Regions from separate parts of the Homo sapiens genome. Here region 1 is linked to region 2. A link means that fine-mapping ties the variant in region 2 to the expression of a gene that starts in the linked region. Tissue or cell type: thyroid. Region 2 holds a variant in brackets; the other region holds the start of a gene. All regions are shown on one strand. Distances are between the middles of the regions. Region 1 holds the start of CPNE4 (copine 4). Region 2 overlaps CPNE4 (copine 4).

The links. PIP is the estimated chance that this variant, and not a neighbour inherited with it, causes the effect.
Region 1: it holds the start of CPNE4, and the variant in region 2 is fine-mapped to the expression of CPNE4 in thyroid (GTEx, PIP 0.98).

The regions. Positions count from the first base shown.
Region 1 is chr3:132,030,924-132,039,264 of GRCh38, reverse strand. It overlaps CPNE4 (copine 4), which reads left to right and starts at 4,251. Exons shown (of 16, transcript NM_130808.3): 1 at 4,251-4,698. RefSeq lists a silencer at 4,027-4,126 and an enhancer at 4,502-4,671.
Region 2 is chr3:131,968,076-131,976,416 of GRCh38, reverse strand. The region is part of intron 1 of CPNE4 (copine 4); the gene reads left to right. Among named protein-coding and RNA genes, the nearest start is that of MIR5704, 14 kb to the left of the region's middle. The variant A/TTA (reference allele first, on the strand shown) is at 4,052.

The DNA.
Region 1 (8,341 bases), 63 kb before region 2:
AGATAAAGGTACATCCCAGCTGATTCAGTATCTCCTTCTCTTTGAAAACTCTCACAGAAACTGCCCTATAACTTCTACTGACATCTCATCTCAATGGCTAGATCAGTGCTATATAACAAAACTTTCTGCAATGATAGAAATGTTCTATATCTGAACTATCCAAGATGTTAGCTACTAGCCACTTATGACTGTTTAGCATTTAAAATGTCACTTGTGGAACTGACAAAATCAACTTTTAATTTTACTTGATTTTAATAAATTTAAATTTAAATAGATACATGTGTCTAGTGGCTACCACAATAAATAGTGCAGGGCTAGACCTTAATCACATCACTACCCCATCTGCAAGAAAAGCTGGAAAATGAAGGTTTGGAGCTAAACACGTTGCTACCCTCCACAAAATTATGTTTTTCTTAGTAAGGAAAAACAAACAAAAATGAATATAGGCTGGGCAGATAACAGCCTCTGCAACCAAGGGATATTTGCTTGCTAATATTCCTTAAGCCCAGAGGAATGGAGTGCTAATGGGTTTATCATAGGCATGAAAAATGGTGTGTCTGGGAAGATATTATGTAGTTAAAAAGCAGAATCTTGGAGCTGGAGTTCAATCCAAATACTTTCTTTTTACAATGAGAAAACTGAGGCTCAGAGGGACAACTGAGAGACCTCATTAATAGAGCAATAGGAAAATCTGCTCTGAAATTATACAGAGCTATTTAGTGGCCTTTATAACATCACTCATGATAAAATGTAAAATCTCAGAAAGAAAATGCCCTCTGCCTATGGTTTTTAAAATACAGGAAAGAAAAGCTAGAGATTTTGATGCCACCTATTGGTAGACAGAAGTATAAACTGCCCTTTCGTAGCACAGGTTGTTACCCAATGTTAGAGGCACCACAGGTGGTATAGGGTTCTCATAAAAAGGAATGACAGACAGTGGAATATTTAATTCCTGCATCAGCTTGCAACATGTATGTTCATTTTCCCTTGACTCTTAGCATCTTAGAAAAAGTGCTTTCTTAGAGTGTTCCTTTCTGCTTTCCAGTAATACATCACACCTCAGGCATATACAGAAACACCAGAGGAAGACATATCAGTCAGTTCTCAAAAATCACTTGAAATAGAAAAAAAGAACAAATTTTTGAGCTATAAATAGCCCTGGGGTGAGATTCAAAGTTCTTATATGATCCACAGCCTCAAAAATATATCCTGTTATTTACAACAGTTTCCTTTAGTAGTTCTTACAGAAAAAAAAAAAAAAGAAAGAAAATAAAAGGAAACAGAAATTCCATTTCAAAACTAAATGCTCACCCTGACTCATTCAGGGAAGGATCCAAGGTTTTTGATGCAGGGCACTGACTCTCTGCCTGTTTTTCCCCTTCATCATCTGCTCCCCTTAAAAAATGGTATCAACTGCATTGGTAAGAATCCACATTTCTTCCCTTTTGTTCCCTGGCTTCATTCCAGGATTTCACTTGTCACACTGATGGGTGAGATGCCTTTCATATTGGCATAAGACACTGAGCGGATGCCTCCTCTTATCTTATCAAACAGAAACCCGGCGAGTGAATCTACCCAGAGCTGAAGCTTCCTTTGCAACTTGGGAACACCAGGGCCACAGTGACTTTGTGGCTTGGCTTTAGATAAATTTGACCATGGCTGTAGAACCCAGCAGCTCAGAATCCATTAAAAGGAGAGCTGGGAGGAGGTGAGTGATAGAGACAAGGGGATTTTGATGTTACAATTGTTGAGGGGACTGTGGCTGGCGGGCAACTTGCTGTGGGGGCAGTGATTGAAAACATGGATTATTAGCTGGTTACAAATCTTCATTTGTACAGATGAGCTGTTGATTTCATATAAGAGGTGGAAGTAAATTCTGCTTTATGTGCCCTGTAAAAAGCTTCTTTGAATTTACCTTCAGTGTCATGCCTTCAGAAAAAAATTCCAAGTTTCTGGCATAAAGCTGCACGTTTTCTGCGCACTGGCATGCAGGCAACTGTTTGTTTCTAATTACGGAGCTGAAGCCTGCTGGCAAAGGAAACCATATTTGTCACAAGTTGTGGCATTGTGTTTAGTTTGTGTATCTATGCTTTTAACATGTAGGGCCAAAGATAACTATGTTGTTTTTCTTTTTCCCTATGAGCATTGACTCTATAACTTCTTTTCTATGGTCCATGTGTTCACTTATTCTAGCTGCCCCTTTAGAGACTGCTTCAATGAACAACCCCTATCCTCCCATTAACTAGTTGTGTTCCCTGGTCTGGTCATTTCAACCGCCCACACCCTGGATTTATTTTTGTAGATATAGTAAAACTTTCTTGGGCAGGTTGTTGTAAAAATTAAATGGGATGGTAAGTAGAGTGCCTAACAGATTGCCTGGAAATAGTACATGCTCAGCACATCTTAATTCCTTTTCTCTCACCTGTAATATAAGAAGTTTATGTTGAATGGTCCCTAAGGTATTTATATTATTTTTAATTTTATAAATGTAGAAGGTGGTAGACACCTTTCTAGGCATTGGGGTTATAATTATGAACAAGACGACAAAACAGACATATCCCTTGCCTTCATAGAAATTAAATTTTAGAGGATACAATTAACATGCAAGGAAATGCACAATGACTTTTCCTTCTTCTTCCTTCATCTTTGCAAGTTCAATCCAATTCAAATTTTGAGTTTATCTCTGAGGCTACCTCTTAACAAAACCTGGAAGTAATGTTTTTGGACTTAACATTTTCATATTTAGTAGTCATACACTGGTTTTGCCTGCTTAGCATCCGTCTCCCCTTTCCTGGTAGGAGGACCCTGAATATCCCTTGGAGAATTGTCCCTGTGTCTCACTCGCAATGTGTGTAGATCAGGTGGGGCTCCATCCTGGCTCCAGGAGTGCTATAGAAGACATCACATGCTCCTAGACATTGTGGAAGTCCTGGCCCATTAGTGTAATTCCATATCCAAAGGTCACAACGATTGACTTATGCATAGCCATGTGACCCAAGTTTTTGCAATCAAAGCAAATCCAAGGATTTCTGTGGTAGTTTCAGTGTACAGAGAAGCTCCCTGAGGTCCTTTCCAGGGTCCATGTTTAGTGTTATCCTATTTCAGAAAGGCTTTAGAGGTGACTGAAAGAAGAAAAATGTTATTTGTGTTCTGTCAGAAGGTTGTCCCTTTGTTTATCAAAGATATTTCTGTCTACTTCTATAGAACAATTAAGAGGGGGTCTTCCTCCTTACCCTATTGGTTCTCCTTTTCTGGACTTTGAAATTGAGAACTTCATGGTTAGTGAAAAGATTTTGGCTAATATCTCCTCCAACCTTCAGGTTGGAGAGGCTTTGTTAGATAGCCCCTTAATAGGGTGAGAAGGAAGACCTTCCATCTCCCCTCCACGTTAGATGTAACACACTCTATACCATCCCAATGTCAGAAAGAGACCGTCATTCACTTTACTTCATTAATTCCAAAGTCCAATTTGTGAGTCTGACAATACCAATGTGCAGAGAGAATTTAGTTGTCTAGTTTGTCTATGGTAGCAGACATAATCAGAAACAATGCCCTGTATTTGAATAAGTTCATTTGTCTGAATTTGAATAAGTTTGAAATAGGAAGGCCATACTTTCTCTCTAAAGTGCTTTAAAACATGTGGAAGTGGTCACCCCTTACATAAGACAGCATATTTATATCTATCTTTAAGCATAAGTACTCCCTAAGTATTTCTTTATCTTATTTGTGAGGTAGATGTATTCAGAAACTCATCATGAGATGAAGAAAATACTCTTTGTCCATTAATTTACTCATGCATTACTTACTAAAAATAATTTCCAGGCTCCTGCCATACGCCAGACAGTTTTGTAGACACGAAGGATCCAGAGATTAGCAACACCTTTACCATTTTTGGTGACAGTTAAGCACCCATCTAAGAAGTTTTCTTTGGTGAGTGCCAAAAAGTGTAACTCCCATTCCCCCCACACCCGCGCCGCGATACGACCGCTCCACCCTAGAGTGGAGATGGAGACCAAGCACTTGGAGATCTAAATCAAGTGTCCCCAGGAGCTCAGTTGAGCGACAAAGCTGAGCAGAAAGCCCAGACTGCGGGCGCGGCAGGACCACGGAGAGCGCCGCCGCCAAGGCCTGGGCGGGGCCTGAGCTCGGGTTCCCGGGGCAATGCTCGTCTCCGTCAGCAACCCCCAGGGGGCGCTCGCGCGGAGGTTTCGGAACCAGTCTCTTGCCGGGTTGCTGGGTGCATGGGATTCGTCAGAAGGTGGAAATCTCTCTGTGAGAAGCTGCCATCTCCCCGCCACCCGCTCGTCCCCTTCTCTTTCTGCCACCCTCCTTTCCTTCCTCCCTCGCTCCACTCCACTCCCTCCCTCTTTTCTCAGTACCCTCCTCTTTACTCTCCGAGTTAACTGAGAGCCGACCTGACATCTCCAACATTTTCACCCTCTTCCCCCACCCCCATCACCGAGAATGGAGTCAGGGTTTCCGGAGAGACCGAACTCTGCTCTCAGCACCTTTCCCAGCCGCTGTTGCTAAACTGACCTCGGAGGACGAGAGGGGAAGGAGGTGCGACGCCCCTTACATCAGTACAAAACTACCACACCAACCACCTCCACTTCAAAGCCGGATTTTGCATCCTGGGGGCGGGACAGACCTCGTCCCGGGCTGAATTCTCTCTCCACTCTTCGAGATTGGCACACCCAGGTAAGTAAATGCCAACTCTTCATTCCTGTGTTCCTGGGGCGCTGTGATTGCAAAGTCTGTTGGAGCTGCTGCGTAGCAAGACCAACTTTTGAGATGCACTGGTTCTCGCTCACCTTTGCACGTTTGTCATTGCTGTTGTTGTTTTAAAAAGCAGCAGCAAGCAACGTCTTTAATCTGAAGGGACTTCCATCCCCTACCTCTCGCCTTCTGACATCCACCCAACTCGCCCAGGTGGGGTGGGGCGAATGGAGTTGGGGAGAAAGACCGCGGAGGGGAGGGGACAGCATGGCACGGGTGAGGGATAGGTCAGGGAAGTCCCGAAGGCGGAAGAAGGGGTACGGTTTTCAAAATCGGGGAAGGGGAGGGGAAGGGAGTTCTGGCTGAAGTTGCAGCTTCCTCTCTGACAGTGAGAAAGCTGTGGGACATTGTAGTCCCTTCCAATGGCTTGACCTGGCTGCGGTTGGATTCAGCCTCTCAACCTCCTCCCCCACACTTCTTACAATGAGGTTCTAATAATATTTTAGTTGCCTCTTCTCAGTGTTAAAAACTAATGAATAGGCTTGCAAGTGCTTTGATTCAACGTAGTCCTTCAGCGCTTCTTCCTCTATGGAATAAAGTAGCCAGAAGGAAAGGGGGACGGGGACAGGGGACGGGACTGGAGGGACCACTGAAACCAAGCCACAGCTGAGTAAGGAGATCACGACCCCGCGTGGTATCACAGACACACGAGAACTGTTAGGGCTGAATCCAATGGAGATAATTAGGAGGTGGTCCACGCCAAGTCAAGCGAGTGCTGATTACCATCCGGTGAGGAGCAGGCTAAACCCTGATGAAAAATGCTCCTCCTTCATCTTGGAGTAGGTGGGCTTTAAGGCCCTATTTCCCATTCTATGTTCCAAATCTGACGGCGCCCCAGGGCGCCTTGGCGGATTGCCTTTCAGCCCCAGAACCTGCTAGGCTCCAGGGAAAGTCACAGGCGGCAGAGATGATCCAAGGGGCGCAAATCTATGAAGGGCTTGATGTGGGTGGTTGGGAAGTGGAGGGGGGAAAGGTGAGCAGAGTGAGGCGGGAGGGGGCTAGGGAAGCGAGAGTGCTCTGGGAAGCTTTGCAAGAGAGACATCTGAGAACCTCTCCCTCTACACACACACACACACACACACAGACACACACACACACTCACACACTCTCACAGGATTTCAGTGACTTGTGGGAAAAGATGCCTCAGCACCTTTACACCCTGTGTTCAAAACTATGCAAAACCAACTCTTCATCCTCTTGCTGCTTTGCCAGGGATTTTAAAAGCACTGTTCTGGTTTTTCTTGGCTCACTTGGTTTTGTTTCCTGAACAGCACTTTTGAGCTGTCCAAGATACTTTAATATGTTATCTTTAAATGAAACTAAATCCTGCTCATTCGCGCGCCCCCGCGCGCACACATACACAGGCGTACACAATTACCTTAACTTCAAATAAAGTGTTCTTTTCTCCATACTCTTCTATTCCCTTAACAATCCCTGTTCTCAAAGGCCTTTGTGTTTTATTTTCTGCTTTATAACAAAACAAAAAAACAAACACCCACCGTCCTATGACACAGGTGTTTTGAATCCATGTCAATTTTTGTAGTTAGTATATGCTGGTTAAACCACATAGCATATCCCCCAAAAAGCCAGAGGCAAGCAAAAACTTAATTTGATGCCCTTCAAGTTTCGGAAGGTCCCATTTCTTTTTATTAACCAAAAGATAAGATGAAGCTCAGCATGGCTATGGCTGTGATTAGATAACTTCTGATATTTTCATTTCCCTTACCGAGCTGCTGCTTCTAGGCTGAACTCATTCACCTGCCCATTTTTAAAGAGAGACTGACAAAGTCACTCTGGCAGGTCAGGACTCAGAGTTAGTCAAAAGTTCTCACATGTAGAGAGGTGCATAAAATAGAGGGAGGGTTGGAAAATGCAGTCAGAACACCTGTGTTAATAGTGCATACTAATAAAGGCCAACATTTTCTCAACTATCTCTCATGGGAAGATTCTTATGGTTTTAGAGGATCAAACTCAAAACACATCAGAATGAGGTGACTTTTCCATTAACATTACATAAAAGGATATATTGGTCTATAGCAATAGTAGATGTTTAATCCTGGGCAGTTTTGTATGATTGTGTGAGAAGAGATTGCCTATAATTGAACCAAACCTCTACTTATGTGTTAACAAGTAAAAACTCCCATGGCCATCAAACTTATGCCTTTCCTGTGAGTGGTCAACCTTATTTTTATTCTCCCAGACACAGGCCCAGCATATTTGACTGGGAGAAGGCACAGATGCGGTACAGTGACTTCCCAGTTTGAGATAGTTGCTTTACTAAAATTCCTAAATATTTCTTTGAAAATAGTTGCTCTGAGTTGTTTCTTAAGTGTAAAAAGAAATTAAAAGACTTCCTGTTTATCTCCAAGTCTCCAGTAGCAACATGACATTTTGGTGAATTATTGGTTTGTCTTAAGGGGACTCTGGTTTTAGAGGTTTTAATTAAAAGGTGTTTGTTCTAAAGTATACTTAATCTGCTTGTGTATTTCTAATTAAAAATACCTCATTTCAGTTAGTAGGAAGTAAAGATGTTATCTGTTTATAGAGAAGTTTTATGTAATATTCCAAAACAATAGAAAAAAGCTTTGATTCTTTTAAATAATTAGATTATTCAAGCCCATTATTATGACTTAAAACCTTGAGGTTATACTGACTATAAGAAACAATCACAGACCAAAAAAAATGGGTTAATGGTGGAATCTTTATTCTCATATGTATTTGAATCTTTTGGAATTAATACTGAACACATTTATAAGGTTTGCACTATGCCTTCTTCTGACTTCACTTCGAAAATTCTTTGAAATGTAACACCCTAGAACATTATGTTACCTTTATCCACATAAAGAAAGGATCTTTTCATTTAGAGATGAACTTATTGAAGATGAGCCGTCAGTGTTGTGTGTAATCAATACCACACATTTTCAGAGTGGTCTGAATCCAGAACAAAGAATGAGACAGGTACTCTGATGATATCAACTTGGCTAATTGGGTAAAAGTCTCTACACTAGTTGGGAAAAATCACTTCATGCATCTTTGTATTTTTTAATCAGTGGTGTGTAAGAAGATCTGTATTCCGTGCACTTTGAAGAGAGAAAGGGCTAAATTTGTGTTCCATATTTGATCTTTCCATTTTTGTCTTGTTAATATTTTAAAAGAAAAACAAAAACCTTTGCAGATCCATTCAGTAACCCAAAGTCATATTTCCTTGGCAACAGTAGCCAGTACACTAGATTTACAAAATATCAAAATAGAAAAATTTAAATGCATTCAAAATAAAATGTCACATAGTTCAAGACCATTCTTTGGTGCATTAAAACTGATCTTCCAACATGTAATAATACAGTTGCCTTTCTCCTGATTGAATGTAGATGGCAAAGAATAGATTACTGATTTTAATTCTTTTTAAGATGTCCCCAAAATCTTATAATATTTTCTTTTCAGGGAAGCACATTATGATAATAATTTAGGTTGGGGTTACACATCCATTTTTTGGATAAAGTATTTATGTGATAGTTGATGGTAAATCCAAAAATCAAGCACAATAAATGGGTCAGGTAAGATGCAT
Region 2 (8,341 bases):
CCACATAGTGGTCTTATAAAGGGAAAAGAGCTTTGGTGAACTTTATCAAAGTTTTTGTTGCTGTTGTGTTTTCATTTGTTTGTTTGTTTTTATATGAAGCAAACTTATTTTTTAATTGGAAAAATAAGCCATGGTCTAAGTATTAAAAAAAAAATTAAACCCTACAAAAGTAAGTCTCACTCCTAGCCCAGGCTTCTGACCCTAGCCTTCTTTCCCATATACAATCATTAATACCACTGTGACCCTTCTAGAAACACTTTAAGGTAGAATGTTTTACAGGAGGTTGAGGGAGGGAGAAAAGAATGAGAGTGCATTCTTTAAAAAAAAAAAAAAAACCAACAATATTGACAGATTATTAAGTTTTAAAAAAAGTCCTATAGTTTTTTTTTAAATATCAGCATCCATAAGTCTACTTTAATCTTTGTCACAACTGCATAGTATGGATATGTTATCTATTTTACCGCACCGTATCAGAGGACATTTAAATTATTTAATTTATTGTTTATTATGTTTGTTTATTTCACTGTTACAAGCCATGATGTGATGGTCATCCTTATTTGCATGTCATTTCCTCATAACCTGATATATTTGTTGGATAAGTTCTGCGTACACTAGGCATACATATCTATGCATGCATATATATGTTTATGATTCGAATACACAAACAGAAGTGCTAAGAACTTCAGCCTATACTCTGATTTCCCTACCTTACAAAGTCCCTTAGGATAGCAACTGGTACAAAATTACCTGATTCTTTTCAGGGTCACCTTTCATTTCCCTCCATAGGTGTAAATGTCACGGTGTTTATTTCTGCAGTGTAGGCATTCAGGGCCTGCAGAAGCAGTGTGGGTAGATTTCCCTGGATATGAGGTGAACTATGCTGAAGAAGTTAGAGCCAGCTGCACTCAGGGCTTGTCATAGTTTTAGAATGTTTTCATAGAAGCCTAGGCTGATAGCAATGGGAGAAGCCTCGGGTAAATGAATCCAATCCTCCCCATTCCCAAAGTAGAAGGACTAGGCAGCTAGGAGAAGTCATTCTCATGCCCAGGTAACTCACTCAAGTTGCCAACCGGGGTTTTTCTATCACACCATGAAAACCTGTGCTTCTGTCCTATATTGCCTGGAGGCTGACTTTCTTATCGCTTCCTGTTTCTCCTCATGACTTTGACTGGGTTCTCTTAACTTGCAGGCTTAGTGTTGAAAGGGACATTTAAAAGCCCCAGAACCTAGTTAAAATTTGACAGGCGGTTCTCTCTTGCAGGATAGGTTTTGCCAACTCCCCTGAGGCTGCAATCTCAATTTGATGACGGTTTTAAAGCCATTGTTAAAAATGAATAATACGAATTTTGAAAAAAATTTGATGGTTCTCTGTCTTTATTTCTCTTTACTTATTTATTTATTTGATTTTTGAGACAGGGTCTGGCTCTGTCACCCAGCCTGGAGTGCAGGGGTGCAATCTCCGCTCATGGGAACCTCCACCTCCCAGGCTCAAGCCATCCTCCCCCCTCAGCCTCCCGAGCAGCTGGGACTACAGGTGTGCACCACCACGCCGGGCTAATTTTTGTACTGTTTGTAGAGACAGGGTTTTGCCATGTTGCCCAGGCTGGTCTCGAACTCCTGAGCTCAAGCAATCCACCTGCCTTAGCCTCCCAAAGTGCTAGGATTACATACGTGAGCCACTGGGCCCAGCCCATCTCTTTTTCTTTAATCCCTTTTGAACAGTCTGAGGTGGCAAGAGAAACAATGGGCAGATAGGCTTGGCCCTGTTCACAGAGTATGGGAGGCAGGGAGGAGCAAGCAGAGACTTTTCTGTGAATGGTAACCTTAATGAATCAGATCACATTTGAGTTGGCCCTTTTCTCATTACAGGCAGAGAAGGTAGATGCTGCTTGGTATCTTTTCTCAGCTGAATTTACTTCCAGACAAGCAGGTCATCTGTTAGAGTCATTTAAGCTGAGTGTGCTATGACAAGGAGAGTTGGGAAGTCAGTACATATGTGCATGCATGTATTAGGTGTGTGTATGTGCACATTGTATGTATATACATGTGCATTCACTGTAGATGCGTATATACATACATGCACATGTGTGTATAGATGCAGGCATATGCACATAACACATATGTACACATATATGTGCACAAGACATTTTACAATTACCATTGTGAAGGAAAATAGAAATTAAGGACTTTCATTAACCTCTTCCAGGGAGAGAAAAAAGAAACTAATGTATTAAGACCTGAGAACAGAAAGTTCTGACAAAAGCAAGAGTGTTTCCCTTTTTAGAATGAAAAGTCTCTGGTAGGACAGATTCTGTCCAAATACCTCCTTTCTACCACAAACAGGATTTTAATGACAGCCCTTCCCTTGTAAATTTACATGGAGGTATCTCTATTGACTCTCGTTGCCATGGTGATTCAAAGAAACTGGTCTGGGACTGCAGTTTGGGATAACATTTTTCAAATAGGGTAAGGAGCCCAGGAATGCAGACTTTGTGGCTTGACAATCTGCTCTATTCTTAGGGTAAAAAATAACGTTACGCTTGGCAAACCAATTATGTTTTTGACAAGATAAATGCTTTTGACGTTATTCCTATTCTTCCTGGGTAATAGTTAAGTAGATAAACAAATTAAATTGACCTTAGAGATAAAAATTCATGCCCATTCTTCCACTGCTATAACTGTTCAAAACATTCTTTCCAGATTTCTTTGGAATGGATACATTTTGATGTGGGAGAAGTCATTCAGTATACTGAGTTGAAAACATTAATACTGGTATCAAATTGCCTGGGTTTGAATACCAGCTCTGCCACCAGCTCTGCTGGGAGACCTTGAAAAAATTACTTAAACTTTTTGATTCTCAGCTTCCTTGTTTGCCAATGGAGATGATAATAGTATCTATCATTAAAAGCTGTGCTGAAGAATAAGTTAATCAATATATGTAAGGCACTTAGAATCATGCCTGATCCATATCAGAGGCTATAGAAATATCAGATATCATCATCATCACATATTTCTATTATTATTATTACTACATTGATTCTTCTTGGGAAAAAATTGACATTTTTTTTGCACCCTACATAGATGGACTCTGGGGAGAAGAAACAGTCCATAGAACAGAGGCTTGGTAGAACTTTGAAATGACAGGAATTCTTTCAAGATCACCTAAAAATCTTTTTGAACACAGCTGAAAATCTCCAGCCTTTCTTTTCTTCCTTTAAACTCAGGTTTCATTATCTTTTAAGATGGCTATGATACCACAGATCCGTTGTACAAAATGACTTTTTTCCAGGTCACCACACACACTGTGAGTTTATGCTAAATCCCACTCTGCTGTTACAACCAGTTGGGATTTTTAGGGCCAAAAAGGTGAGTTAAGGGGTGTATGTACATTGATGAAATAAAAGGTGAGACTTAAGCTAGTTGTAGACCTTTGTATGCTCCAATTCTTTTAAAAAAATATATGAGAAAGCTGGGACTTCAGAGAAAGATTAGGAGTAAAACCGATTGTATTAGTGCTTTGTTGCCACGCTTTGAGACTTGTGATTTCAGAATGGCAGATCTGAGATAAGTTCACTGGGAACATCTGGTCCAGCCTTCCCATTTATGGAGGAGGAAGTAGAATCCTAGAAACATGAGTAGCTTGCCTGAGGTCAGCTAGGGAGGGAAGAACAAATGCAGGATGAGAGCCTAGATCACTTCTGGCCCAGTTCAGAGCTACCTTAAAAATAGAGCCATTTAGAGCTCTGTACCATATGGCCTTCTCCCTTTGTGTCTTCAACTAGGTCCTGTTGTGAGCTGTAGGAATGGGTTTTTTAGCCCCTTGACACTGTTGAATGATTCTTCTCGGATGTGAGGGGCACCGTTTGTTCCATGAGAGCAGCAGCTTCCTTGGGGGCCCGATGTTTTTCTTTTGAAATTCCAACAGGAAAGACCAGAATTCCATGTTCCCAATAATGCCATCTGTTTATTTGAAAGGGGACAAAAGATCACTGGGGATTGGCATTTGTTCTAGCTCTCTGCACTTTACCTCATACAAAGAAACTCTGCTTGT[A/TTA]AGTGCTATGATGAGGCTCCAAGTTGGCTAGCTGAACTTGAGGAATTCATCGGGCAGAGAACTATAGACTTTCAGTCATACAGAAGTATGTACTTGTTGCTGCCAGTGAGACCTTTGTGCGCCAAGGGAGTGTTGATGTGTAACCCTTAGTATTTTCATTGGCTTCAGCGTCTCTGAAAGAACAGCATTTACTGTCTTCTGAGAAGATAGGTATTTCTTTTTGTTGATTTTTCTTTTTTTTTCCCTCTCTCTCTAAAGGATAGAAGATAAGAAGTTTTATAATCCTAATCCTGACACTCAGTTGCCATGAACATTTTCTTCTCTTAAATGTATGTCCTTTGCCATTCTCTCATTTACCCACTCATCCAACAGTTCTTTCTGTAAACATTCATTAAACACCTACCAAGTGCCAGACACTGAGCTAAATGCAAGAGAAACAAAGGCAAATCATATGTAAGTCTGAAGGAACAAGGGGAGAGGGAAATTGTTGGGACTAGAGAAAATAGCTGTCATTCTAGAGGGGCATGCCTGCCTGGGGCTGTGGCCTTAGCTCAGCTACAGGAATGGGATCAACTACAGTGACTTGGAAGCTGAAGGGCAATGGTCTTGCTCACTCTCCTGTTGGTCTTTGCTTCCCTGCCAGTGTCCCCCATTGACTGCCCCCAGATGGAAACCTAAGGGCAAGGTACCCTTAGAGACCAGACTTCCAGGGAATATAGCAAAGGTAGAGAGTGCAACTGAAGGGCCAAGAAAAATATTGAGCACAGTAAAGTTTTGTAAATGAGTTCAGATAACCCTCTGGGGCAAAAAGGAAGGCATTTAAACTTGTAAAGGAATTACTTTTTGCTTGTTAAATGTTAACGTAGTGACTGGAGTTTTTGGACCTAATGATATCTTAGGGAATCAGAGAAGCGTTGAAGAGATTGTGGTTCTATGGTATAAAAAAGATAGTTCCAAATGTTTGCTGGTACTCTCATTGAGACATGGAATTACCGTTCCTTCTGTGAGAGCTGGATGCCTTTTACTGGTCTTCTTTGACTGGTGAAATTCAGTAGAAGTGATGTTCTAGGACTTACAAGTCTAGGTCATAAGAAGTCTTGCATATTATGTGTTAGAACATTCTCTCTGGGAACTTTAACCTTTGACCCACCCTGTAAGAAATCTAACTACCCTGAAACTACCGTGTCAGCACTCCAGTTAACAGACCCAGCTGAGCTCTGCCTTCTAGATGTTGTCCCCACGGCGTCAGACATGTGACTGTAACCATCTTGGACTCTTTAGATCTTTCTAGCTGCCAGATGAACACCGCTGAGTGACCTCATCTATGCCATATGGAACAGAAGAATCATCTAGCAGATGATCTAGTGATCTGAGAATTGATCCTTCTCAAATTCCTGGCCTACAAAAATTATGAGATAAAATTAAATGGTTTTTGTTTTAACCCACTACGTTTTGGGGCAGTTTGTTAGGCAGCAACAGATAATTGGGAAATGCTGCTACCCTCTCAGATTGATGATCCGTTCATTCTATATCTACATTAATAATGGGAAGTAACAACAATCCTCCACTAACCCCTACACATACATATATTCACAATACAACTTTAACCTTCCATTTCTATGATAAGTGATCTAGCTAGATCATGAAATCTAATGTGAAGCTGTTTAACTCTGGAGGTATTTTGATATATGGAAGTGGAAAAAGTGATAAAAAGCAGTAGCTCTAGAGGACCTAGAAAGTGCAGCATAAGGAAAGATTATAAACCCCATCCCCTTAAATTGCCTTTAAATAAAAGTTTAATTTAAAAAAACTATATAAATTATATGCTTCTTGCCCAAATGCCCCATCAAGGAAACAAACTCATTCATGTCAGAACAAACTTTGGGATTAGACCAATTTCTAAGAAAAAAATGCAAGAGGGAAATGTGCAGCTAATGAGACTTAATGGGGAAAAAGAGCTAATATTTATTAAGCACTGTATTGGTCAGCATACACTGGATTATATCACTGTAACAAATAAGCTCCAAATCTCAGTGACTTGTACAAGAAAAGCTCATGTCTTGCTTTGGCTACAGGTCAAAGTTAGGTTGGTATCTGTGTGGGGGTTGGTGTGTCTTCACTCACTGAAGTTATGCAGAGACACAGATAAGTGAAGCTTCATCTCAACATGTGATTCCACTATCTCTAGAGCATTAGAAAAGGGAAATGGCAGCTCATATACTGATTCTCAAAGTGAAACAGATGACTCGTATTTCCATTTCACTGGCCAAAGCAAGTCATATGGCTCTATACCCAAATTTCAGAGGGCAGGGAAGTTTGACTGGAAGAGGACAGAGCTGGAAATCCTTCGTAAACAGCACCAATTATGAACACAAGCATCTGTTATGGAGCAGACACTTTGCTAGGCATGTCTCATTCAATTCTGACAAAATCCATTATATAGGTAGAAGACAGGCCTACAGAGGTCAAGCACCTTGTCTGTGGTTACACAGCTGGTAATTGAGGAGGAGAGCCTGGAACTGAGGTCCTTAGGTCTGATTTCAAAGTGCATGCTTTTGTTTTGTTTTGTTTTATTTGACATGATGCTCACCAAGCATATACATGTCATTTAGGAACTAGAGAGGACAGTGAAGAGAATTTAATAATTTTATTTGTATTTTGGAGTCACTTTAATCTATAAAGCACCCTGCTGCCCCTTAGACCTGTGCTCTGAAGTGCACCAAGATGGTTGGTAAGTTACCGAGTCTCCACTGTGTTGAGAGCACTGTTCTTAGTCAGTGAGAAGAAAGAAAAAAAATCAGAAAACAGCCTCAAGTGTCCTTGAGAGTTTATTATATGCTAAAAATTAAGAGACAAATATCCTTTACAAAAGGCTTACATATACTTAAAGAGCCTACTTACAGATTAATACATATGCATCTCTTAAGCTTGAACAAGGTGTTTTATTAGATTGGTGCAAAAGTAATTGTAGTTTTTGCCATTACTTTTTTTTTTAATATTTTAAGTTCTGGGATACATGTGCAGAACATGCAGGTTTGTTACATAGGTATACATGTGCCATGGTGGTTTGCTGCACCCATCAACCCGTCAGCTAGGTTTTAAGACCCGCATGCATTAGGTATTTGCCCTAATGCTCTCCCTCCCCTTGCCCCCAACTCCCTGACAGGCCCTGGTGTGTGATGTTCCCCTTCCTGTGTCCATGTGTTCTCATTGTTCAACTCCCACTTATGAGTGAGAACATGCAGTGTTTGGTTTCCTGTTCCTGTGTTAGTTTGCTGAGAATTGTGGTTTCAAGCTTCATCCATGTCCCTGCAAAGGATATGAACTCATACTTTTTTATGGCATCATAGTATTCCATGGTGTATATGTGCCACATTTTCTTTATCCAGTCTATCATCGATGGGCATTTGGGTTGGCTCCAAGTATTTGCTATTGTGAATAGTGCTGCAATAAACATATGTGTGCATGTTCTTTATAGTGGAATGATTTATAATCCTTTGGGTATATACCCAGTAATTGGATTGCTGGGTGAAATGCTATTTCTGGTTCTAGATCCTGGAGGAATTGCCACACTGTCTTCCACAATGGTTGAACTAATTTACACTCCCACCAACAGTGTAAAAAAGTGTTCCTATTTCTCCACATCCTCTCCAGCAGCTGTTGTTTCCTGACTTTTTAATGATTGCCATTCTAACTGGCATGAGATGGTATGTCATTGTGGTTTTGATTTGCATTGCTCTAATGACCAGTGATGATGAGCTTTTTTTCAAATGTTTGTTGGTCGCATAAATGTCTTCTTTTAAAGAAGTGTCTGTTCATATCCTTTGCCCACTTTCGATGGGATTGTTTCTTTCTTGTAAATTTGTTTAAGTTCCTCATAGATTCTGGATATTAGACCTTTGTCAGATGGAGAGATTGCAAACATTTTCTCCCATTCTGTAGGTTGCATGTTCACTGTGATGACAGTTTCTTTTGCTGTGCAGAAGCTCTTTAGTTTAGTTAGATCCCATTTGTCAATTTTGGCCTTTGTTGTAATTGCTTTTGGTGTTTTAGTCATGAAGTCTTTGCCCATGCCTATGTCTTGAATGGTAGTGCCTAGGATATCTTCTAGGGTTTTTATGGTTTTAGGTTTTATATTTAAGTCATTAATCCATTATGAGTTAATTTTTGTATAAGGTGTAAGGAAGGGGTCCAGTTTCAGTTTTCTGAATATCACTAGCCAGTTTTCCCAATACCATTTATTAAATAGGGAATCATTTGCCCATTGCTTGTTTTTGTCAGGTTTGTCAA